3 separate regions of the Homo sapiens genome follow, and regions 1 and 3 are each linked to region 2. The links come from fine-mapping of genetic effects on gene expression. A gene starts in region 2. Each other region holds a variant in brackets. All regions are shown on one strand. Distances are from middle to middle.

The links. PIP is the estimated chance that this variant, and not a neighbour inherited with it, causes the effect.
Region 1: its variant is the best candidate, but not a certain one, in a credible set for the expression of BDNF-AS in tibial artery (GTEx, PIP 0.82).
Region 3: its variant is the best candidate, but not a certain one, in a credible set for the expression of BDNF-AS in esophagus muscle (GTEx, PIP 0.73).

The regions. Positions count from the first base shown.
Region 1 is chr11:27,238,639-27,241,402 of GRCh38, reverse strand. No RefSeq gene overlaps it. Among named protein-coding and RNA genes, the nearest start is that of BBOX1-AS1, 21 kb to the right of the region's middle. The variant G/C (reference allele first, on the strand shown) is at 1,490.
Region 2 is chr11:27,505,328-27,508,091 of GRCh38, reverse strand. It overlaps BDNF-AS (BDNF antisense RNA), which reads right to left and starts at 1,240. Exons shown (of 7, transcript NR_033315.1): 1 at 1,194-1,240. LIN7C (lin-7 cell polarity scaffold C) reads left to right here and starts at 1,323. Exons shown (of 5, transcript NM_018362.4): 1 at 1,323-1,376. The coding sequence starts at 1,340. RefSeq lists enhancers at 917-1,206, 1,277-1,406, 563-1,762.
Region 3 is chr11:27,482,545-27,485,308 of GRCh38, reverse strand. It overlaps the pseudogene RPL37AP7. Among named protein-coding and RNA genes, the nearest start is that of LGR4, 11 kb to the right of the region's middle. The variant G/A (reference allele first, on the strand shown) is at 1,179.

The DNA of each region.
Region 1 (2,764 bases), 270 kb after region 2:
CCAATAGAATGCAGTGGAAATGGTGATATACCCAGTCTGAGTGTAGGCCTCAACAGGTCTTGTGTATTTCTATTCTCTTTCTTGGAAATCTGCCCAACTGCATGTGAATAAGCTCAGGCTAGAATGCTGGAAAACAGCAAGACCCAGGTGAAGCCACCCTAGACCAGCAAGTTTCCTGTTCACCAACAGTCAGTTGTAGATGCATGTGTGAATCCCTCCAAGACAAGAGAAATGCCCAGCCTAACCAAGTTCAAATTGCATGTCTCTAAAATTTTGAGATAAACAAATAGATATTATTGTATACTACGATTATTTGTTACACAGCAAACACTCACTGGTTCAAAACATTGAGAAGAATAGACTCTAGGAACCAGGGCACTTGTAGCTCTTCTAGAGTGCTGCCACCAGGTAACATAGCTCCAGTTGCCTTTTATTCTTTTTGAATCCTCTTCATTCCTGGGTACAAAAAAAAATTGATTGGTCTATCTTGGGTCATATGCCCTCCCCTAGGATAGCGATGGAGTCCTCTGGTTGAGTAGCTTTACCTAAACCACAAGGAGCAGAGAAAGGACAGTTCCTTAAAGGATAGTAGCAGCTGCTATTTCCATGAATAGGGAAGAAGAGGTCCTGTATAGACAAAACATATGTCTGCTATAAGCATTTACTCTGTGTACTTACTCAGGGAGAGTAAGACATTCACTTTCAGCAAGGAAGTCCTGGTCTATTAAGGAGTCAGGTAAGCCATGGTGTCAGGCAAGTAACAGTGTGGCTACTGCTGTCACAAAGGGGCCAGAGATAGCTTTGAGAGCTGGAGGAGGACAACTAACCCAGAATGAATACCAGGAAGATTTTTGGGGAGATGGCATTGGAACCGAGCTCTGTGAGATAAATAATGAGCTAGGTGAAGGAGTAGCAGTGGTGAGGGACACAGGAGGCCTTTTTAGGCACTCGGATTTTAGCATGAGTGAAAACCTGGAGTGAGAGTCTTCATCTGTCACCATGGGCCAAATATAAACCATGTTTATGCCTGGTTTGGCCTAATTTCTCTAAAAAAAAATGAGATAACTCAATTCACAGACTCTACTAGTTCCTACTGTTTCATCTCCTCCAGTTCTCACACTTGTTATCATTGGCTTGGTCCTTGTAGGCACCTGAGTTTGCCACTCTTAGCTAAGAGGCCAGAGAGCATCACTGTGGTTAGAGTGGTAGAGAGGGTATGAGAAGGTAAGGGAGAAGGGTTTGAGGCTGAATAGCTAGTGGGGAATTATGGAGAACCTTGTATGCTTGCTAAGAAACATGTACTTTCTCTTATAAACAATGCAGAACTATTACAGGTATTTGAGCAAGGGTGGTAGTCATGCTTAGACTTCAAAAGGATCAGTCTGGTAGCAAGTAGAAGATGGATGGCAAGGGCAACAAAGGAGGCAGGTAGAACAATTAGGAAGTGATTTTTGTTTTCTAGATAATAAGTACTGGCTTTAACTAAAGG[G/C]AGTGGGATGAGGAAATGGTGAGGATGGGACACATCTTTTCATGATGTCCTCCAGGGAGATGTGGAGATGTTGGTTGCTTCTATCTTTAAAAACTACTGTTGTTTCCTTAGAGCAAAAACATAATTCAAAAGGCCTTTTGCATCTGATAACAGAACTTCCCTATGTCAAAAGAAGACACATCTGTTCTGGAGAAATTGGTGATAAGCTTTAGTCTACATGATGCTGAGACACAAAATCCCTCCTCAGTCTTGCTAGGAAAAATAAACGGCTCCCTTGGACCAAATCAACTTGCCAGAGACCACAGCACTTTCCACACCACTTAGAGTCATGGATGGAGGGCTGTCAAAGGTCGGCCCCGAACTAGAAGCAGATGGGAAAGGATTCTTGCCAGAGACATCATCCAAACCTCTTGCTATTTAGCGATCAGAGGTTGAATGTTCAGAGAAAGTGCATCTGATGCCTTATTCACAACTGGATCAACTGAAATAACAATGAAAGGCGGTGTCTGCCTCAAGAGGGATAAATGGAGCAGCTGCCAGGAGATTCGTGTTTGCCTTCTGGGGAGAGGGTAACGGGAAAGGGCAGTGTCCTTACTCAAAAGGGTTTGGAAAGAAAGCAAAGAGAAAGCATTGATATGAGAGTTCTTTTTCTATGTCATAGAGTAGGCATGATGGGGAGGGTGTATATGAGTTGGGATGGTAAAGAAAAAGTATGAATTTATGATGGAGAGAGATCAATTTTTTGTTAGCTAGTTTTTTTTAAAAACAAGTATCAGTAGTTCAATTAATATGTTGCATGTCTGTTACAAGCATGAAAAGTTATAGCAGAGTGTATGACCCTTTTACTCTGGTTGGGAAGCCCAGACATTTGCATGGAAAAATGCCAATAATAATACAAGGAATAAAGGCTAATGGTGCAATCAGAATCCATTGGTGGTGATAAAAGGAGGAGGTGTTTAAGGGAAGCAATTTGGCAACAAATCTCAATTTTAGACTTGTTTTTAATCTCCAAATGATGCCATTGAGTCACAGAGCTTCAGGGAAAGGATTGAAAGAAGGTGTACATCAGAGAGCTCTACAGTTTTGTCTCCTTACTAGGCCACCTTGCCAACACAATGTGTTCACAATCCATTACTTGCTTTCCATAAATCTTGAAATTATATTGTCAATTGCACAATTCGATTGTATTTTGGTTTTGCATGTATATGCGTAATTAAAGCATTGACTTGTTAAATGAAACATTTCAAATACATTGCACATTTTCTAACTCTGTTT
Region 2 (2,764 bases):
CCCCCATCTCTACTAAAAATTTAAAAATTTGCCAGGCATGGTGGTGCTTGCCTGTAGTCCTCGCTACTGGCAAGACTGAGACAGGAGGCTCTCTTGAGCTGTGATTGCACCACTGCACTCCAGTCTGGACAACAGAGAGAAACTCTGTCTCTAAAACAAACAAAAAGACTTGGAATCAGGAATAAATATGGTTGAAACTATACTATCTGGACTGAAGTGGTGGTTGCACTTAGTGGTAATGAGAAATGAAGTTAGTTGGATGAGTTAGGGTCAGAGTATGCAAGGCTTTAGAAATAGGAAACAGGAGAGAAACCATTGAAAGTTTCTGAACAGAACTTGTGATGATGAAATCAGAATTCAAGGGGAGAAAAAGGAGCATAGTGGTGGCATCCATGATGGATTTGGAGAAGAAAATACTAAAGGTGAATGGAAAGGGTGGACCAGGGGCAAACAGGTTATTAAAACAGTCCCATCATGAAGTGTTGAAATGCTGGATGTAAACACACCTACCACAGTATCAGTACAGACTAAGGGCTTGGATAAATGTTAGTCAAATCCAAGTACTAAAATTCTTCTTGGTTCGCGAAAATTTCAGAAGTGGCTCAAAAATCTGTAATGCATTAAGAATATTATTTGCTTCACAATATTTCATTTACTTAAGATTTTATAAGAATCAGCTGCTTATAAAATTGTTACTTTGTGGTGCACCAAAGCACCTTGTTCTCTCCCTCACCCAGATATGTTTCATGCTCTTTGTACTTTCCACCCCTTAACAGATTTGGAGGGAAGATTCAAGCCGTGGATTTTTAAATTTAAAGCAATGCTGTCACAAATTGAGAACTGACAACATGTCATTACACATTTAATTGCCACCGAATCCCAGAGTTTAAAAATTGTAAGGACCTAAGAGATAGGACCTCTCGTTGTACAGATGCGGAAACTGAGGCTGAGAGAGGGTAAGTGAACAGTCCCAGGTCACAGAGCTGCTAATGGGCAAGGTGGGACTAGAATCCAGGCTTGACTCCTCTACGCTGAGCCAAGGGTTCGAAGCGATTGGGATAAGGGAAGCCTGAGGCAGGGAACGAGAGTCAGGAAAGCAGCTCTTCCCAACCCTAGGAGGCCGGGGGACCTCGTCACCGCGGAAGGAGCGGAGCCAGGCCGACCTAAAAAGCCGCAAGTCCAGGTACCCTTACCCTGATGGCCGCGGCGACACACTCGGCCACCTTCCTGATCTCGCGATACTAGCCGGTACTCACTTTTCCGGCTTCCCCTAGGCCCCGCCCCCCCACCTCAGCCCTTCTGTCGTCATTTCCTGTGGGTCTGTAGGTTAAGGGAGAAGATGGCGGCGCTAGGGGAACCCGTGCGGCTGGAGAGAGGTGAGTGCAGCCGAGGCTCGGCGGAGGTGGGCGGAAGGGTTGGGGGAGTGCTGTGTCGCTGGAGGGGAGGAGGAGTGACCCAGGCTCTGAGATCCGGGCCACGCTGTCCCTTGTGCCGGCGCCAGAGGCCGCCGTTGTCTCTGTGCCTGGCTCTAGGAAGGGCGCTTACGGTATTTTGTCTGTTAACCGTAAGCCCTCCTCTGTTCACACGGACTGTTCCAAGGCACAGCACAACTAAACACAACCTGCCCGCTTCGCAGACACACGCCGCACACGCGCTCCCTTGGTGAGCACAGCAGAAGCAGCATTCGGAGACCCGTACACCCGAAAAGCAAACGTCACACACCCGGTTCGCACAGACTACACTCATTGCCTGTACAGCACGAGAACGGACACACGGTACAATTCAACAGAACCTCCTTTCCCCGCTGTTTGCACACAAACTCCTTCATTACTTTCTCCACAACCTCGCTTGTATTCGGGTTGGGGTATTTGCTAGCTTTTGTGCCCCTCCTAGAAATGGAGAGGTTGCTTTAAAAACAATCCTACTGACTTGGTCTTGGGAAGGAGGTTACGTAAGTAAGCCGAATAGTGGTAGATGCTAAAACACTTGCAGGTGCAGTGTTTTTCATTTCTTACAAACCCTACAATTGCAAACTGGTTGGCTGATTGCTTCCTAGAGCAGACTGTCAAGGAAAATAAAACCACCTCTGCTGAGTAATTAGAGATAGAGAAGCCTACGAAAATAACTGGCTATGCGCCTACCATGATTTCCAGCATTCCAGCGTTTCCAGTCCTTTTACAGATTTCCAGCATTCCACTCTGTCCCTAAGTCCTTTATTTCAAACAATTTCAAGCATGCTTTTCATACACCAGCATTAGAAATCATTGATAGGAATTGAGAAGTACAAATAAACATTTTGAGTACTGGTGGTAAAAAAAAATGTATATGTAGGATGGAGACTGAAATTATATTGCACATATTAACATTTGCAATTAGTCTAAATATTACTATTGTTCCCTAAGAAAACACATTTTTAGAATTACTGTACTTAGAAAAACCTCTTTCCTAATGCCTTCCCACAAACAAATGTGCACTTAATGTTGCTGATTTGCTCTTTACCGTGTTCACCATTTGGAAGCCTCACTGTAAATGAGATTGTTTCCGTTAAGCCTATTAAAGCATCATTTTAGAGGACTAGCTACTCTGGGAAGACTTGCCGAGTTAGGCCTAAGTCTCTGACATCTTCCTCTTGAGCACAGTGGCACTGTGTTTTATAGATGGGAGCAAATCTGTTTGGTGTTAACAGGAGTAAGTTTTTTCTTTGAAAGCTAGTTAAGATTCTAACGTATTGGTCTTTTGTGTTTTTGTTGTTGCTGTTTGGAGA
Region 3 (2,764 bases), 23 kb after region 2:
GTGACCTCCCACCTCAGCCTCCTGAGTAGCTGGGACTATAGGTGCAGGCCACCACACCCTGCTAATTATCATTTTATATATATATATGCATATGTATACATATATAGAGAGACATTTAATGGGAAATTATAATTGTTTCATATTGTTTCCTGAAAATGCTGATACAGTGTAGGTCAAAGAAAACACCAAAAGTATAATAGAAGAGGCAGTATACGTATATTATTTAGTATATCCTAAACCTTTAGAAACTTTTTTGGAGACAAGAGTCTCCGTCACCCAGGCTGGAGTGCAGTGGCATGATCTCAGCTCACTGTAACCTCTGCCTCCTGGGTTCAAGTGATTCTGGTGCCTGAGCTTCCCAAATAGCTGAGATTACAGGCATGCACCACCATACCCAGCTATTTTTTGTATTTTTAGTAGTGACAGGGTTTCGCTGTGTTGGCCAGGCTGGTCTCAAACTCCTGGCCTCAAGTAATCCACCTGCCTCGGCTGCCCAAAGTGCTGGGATTACAGGCCTGAGTCACCATGCCCAGCCTAAAAACATTTTTTTTAAATATTAACTGTAATTTTAAAACTAAACTGCCAGGTGCAGTGGCTCACACCTGTAATCCCTGCACTTTGGGAGGCCGAGGCAGGTAGATCACGAGGTCAGGAGTTCAAGAGCAGCCTGGCCAACATGGTGAAACCCTGTCGCTACTAAAAATACAAAAATTAGCCGGGCATGGTGGCGGGCACCTGTAATCCCAGCTACTCGGGAGGCTGAGGCAGAGAATTGCCTGAACCCAGGAGGTGGAGGTTGTGGTGAACAGAGATCGCCCCACTGCACTCTAGACTGGGCAACAGAGCAAGACTCCGTCTCAAAAAACAAACTAACAAACACTAAAGTTTGCAGTTTGCTCCAGTGTATCTCAAAATCAAACTGGTAGGAACAGACTTATAAAAAGCTAATAGATATATCTAACTTGGAAGACTTGTATCCTTATGCCATATTTTATCATTTGACTACTAAAAAAAGAAACTGAATTAAAATAATCCATCACAGCATGCTTCTCCAAAACGATAGTATTAACACAATGCAAACATCAGAATGTCCAATAAAGTTAACAAGCCAAGGCAATTTTGTTACATACATTAACCCATTTATTATAGGCCAATGATGTCTCAAAGAGTAGAAGAGC[G/A]TCTACCGGTCTTTGAATTCCTTCAGTCTTCTGATGGCGACTTTACCGTGACAGCAGAAGTGGTATTGTAGGTCCAGGCACTGCCAGCCACTGTCTTCATGCAGAAACCACAGTGCCAGATCCCCGTAGCTCATCTCTTCATCTTGGTTTTGCCACAGAAAGAGCAAATGTACTTGGTGTGCTGGGTGATTTCAATTCTTCTTCACCATTTTCCGGAGGGAGGCCCCATAGCGGGTCCCATATTTACTGATGATTCTGACTTTCTTGGTGCATTTGGCCATGTCACCGCAAACTAAGTCTAAGCCCAGAGAGCTATGTGTTTTTTTGTTTGTTTGTTTGTTTGTTTGTTTGTTTTTTTAAGTAGAGATGAGGTCTCGCTGTTGCCCAAGCTGGTCTTGAACTCCTGAGCTCAAGCAATCCTCCCGCCTCAGCTTCTCAAAGTGCTGGGATTACAGGCGTAAGCCACCACACCCAGCCTTATTTCTAATTTTTAAAGCATCAAGAAGAAACAGTTTGTCACAACGTAATACAACTTTCTAACAGCCAGAAGTGCCCAAAGATGGACTACTCCCCATGGAGGTATGAATATGCCAACTCTAAGGTATCCAAGAATAGCAGGGATGCTGTTCAGCCTTCTTAAGCCTTAGGAAGGTAATTAAACTAGCGTTAATGTCTTTTCTAACCCTGTGTTTCTACATTCTGAAAGTTGAATTGTAAACTGCTTGTAGGAGAGCTCCATGTCGTACCTTATATCCTGGGGCTGCAGTGAAAGGCACCTGTCAGACCTCTCACTGTGGGGACACTAATTGACTAACAGTCCTAAGGTAAAATCCTTCACCCTGTTTGTGCCAAGGCCACACTTCCTATGGGCTGGTCCCAGCCCATGACTGAGCATGGCTGAGATACTAAGGCAGTCCTGTTCCTGGGAGACGTGAGACTCTGGCAGATAATTTTTGTGGCTTTGCTGAAATTTTATAGAACTGCACTGAAATCTAAGACTCTTTTCCTTCCTTCACCTCCTCACCTGGGGCCAGACCCACATCTCAATCTGATGGTTTCTCAGACGCCCTTAGCTCCCTCCCCATTTTCCCTTCACAATCACTTCCCCTAACAAATCTCTTGCATGAGTAATCCCATATTGATGTCTGCTTCTCAGAGGACCCACACTTGCCTTATCTTGTAGCAAAAAGTCATACGTCTTGGTTAGTGGTGGAGGCCTACATCAGAATCAGGAACTTTTTAAACACTGGGAATTCAGGGACCCACAGAGACCTTCTATAATAGAATCAATGGAGATGGAATCTTGGAACTTCTGTATTACAAACCTTCCCAGGGTGATTTACATGCAGACAGCCCTGCATCAGTCAAAACTCTTCAGTACCTAGCGGAGTACATTTTGAAAAGTAGGTATGTGGTAAATAGTCCTTGAAAAACAAAATCCAGCTGGGTGCAGTGGCTCATGCCTGTAATTCCAGCACTTTGGGAGGCCGAGGCGGGGTGGATCACCTGAGGTCAGGAGTTCGAGACCAGTCTGGCCAACATGGTGAAACCCCGTCTCTACCAAAAATACAAAATTAGCCAGGCAT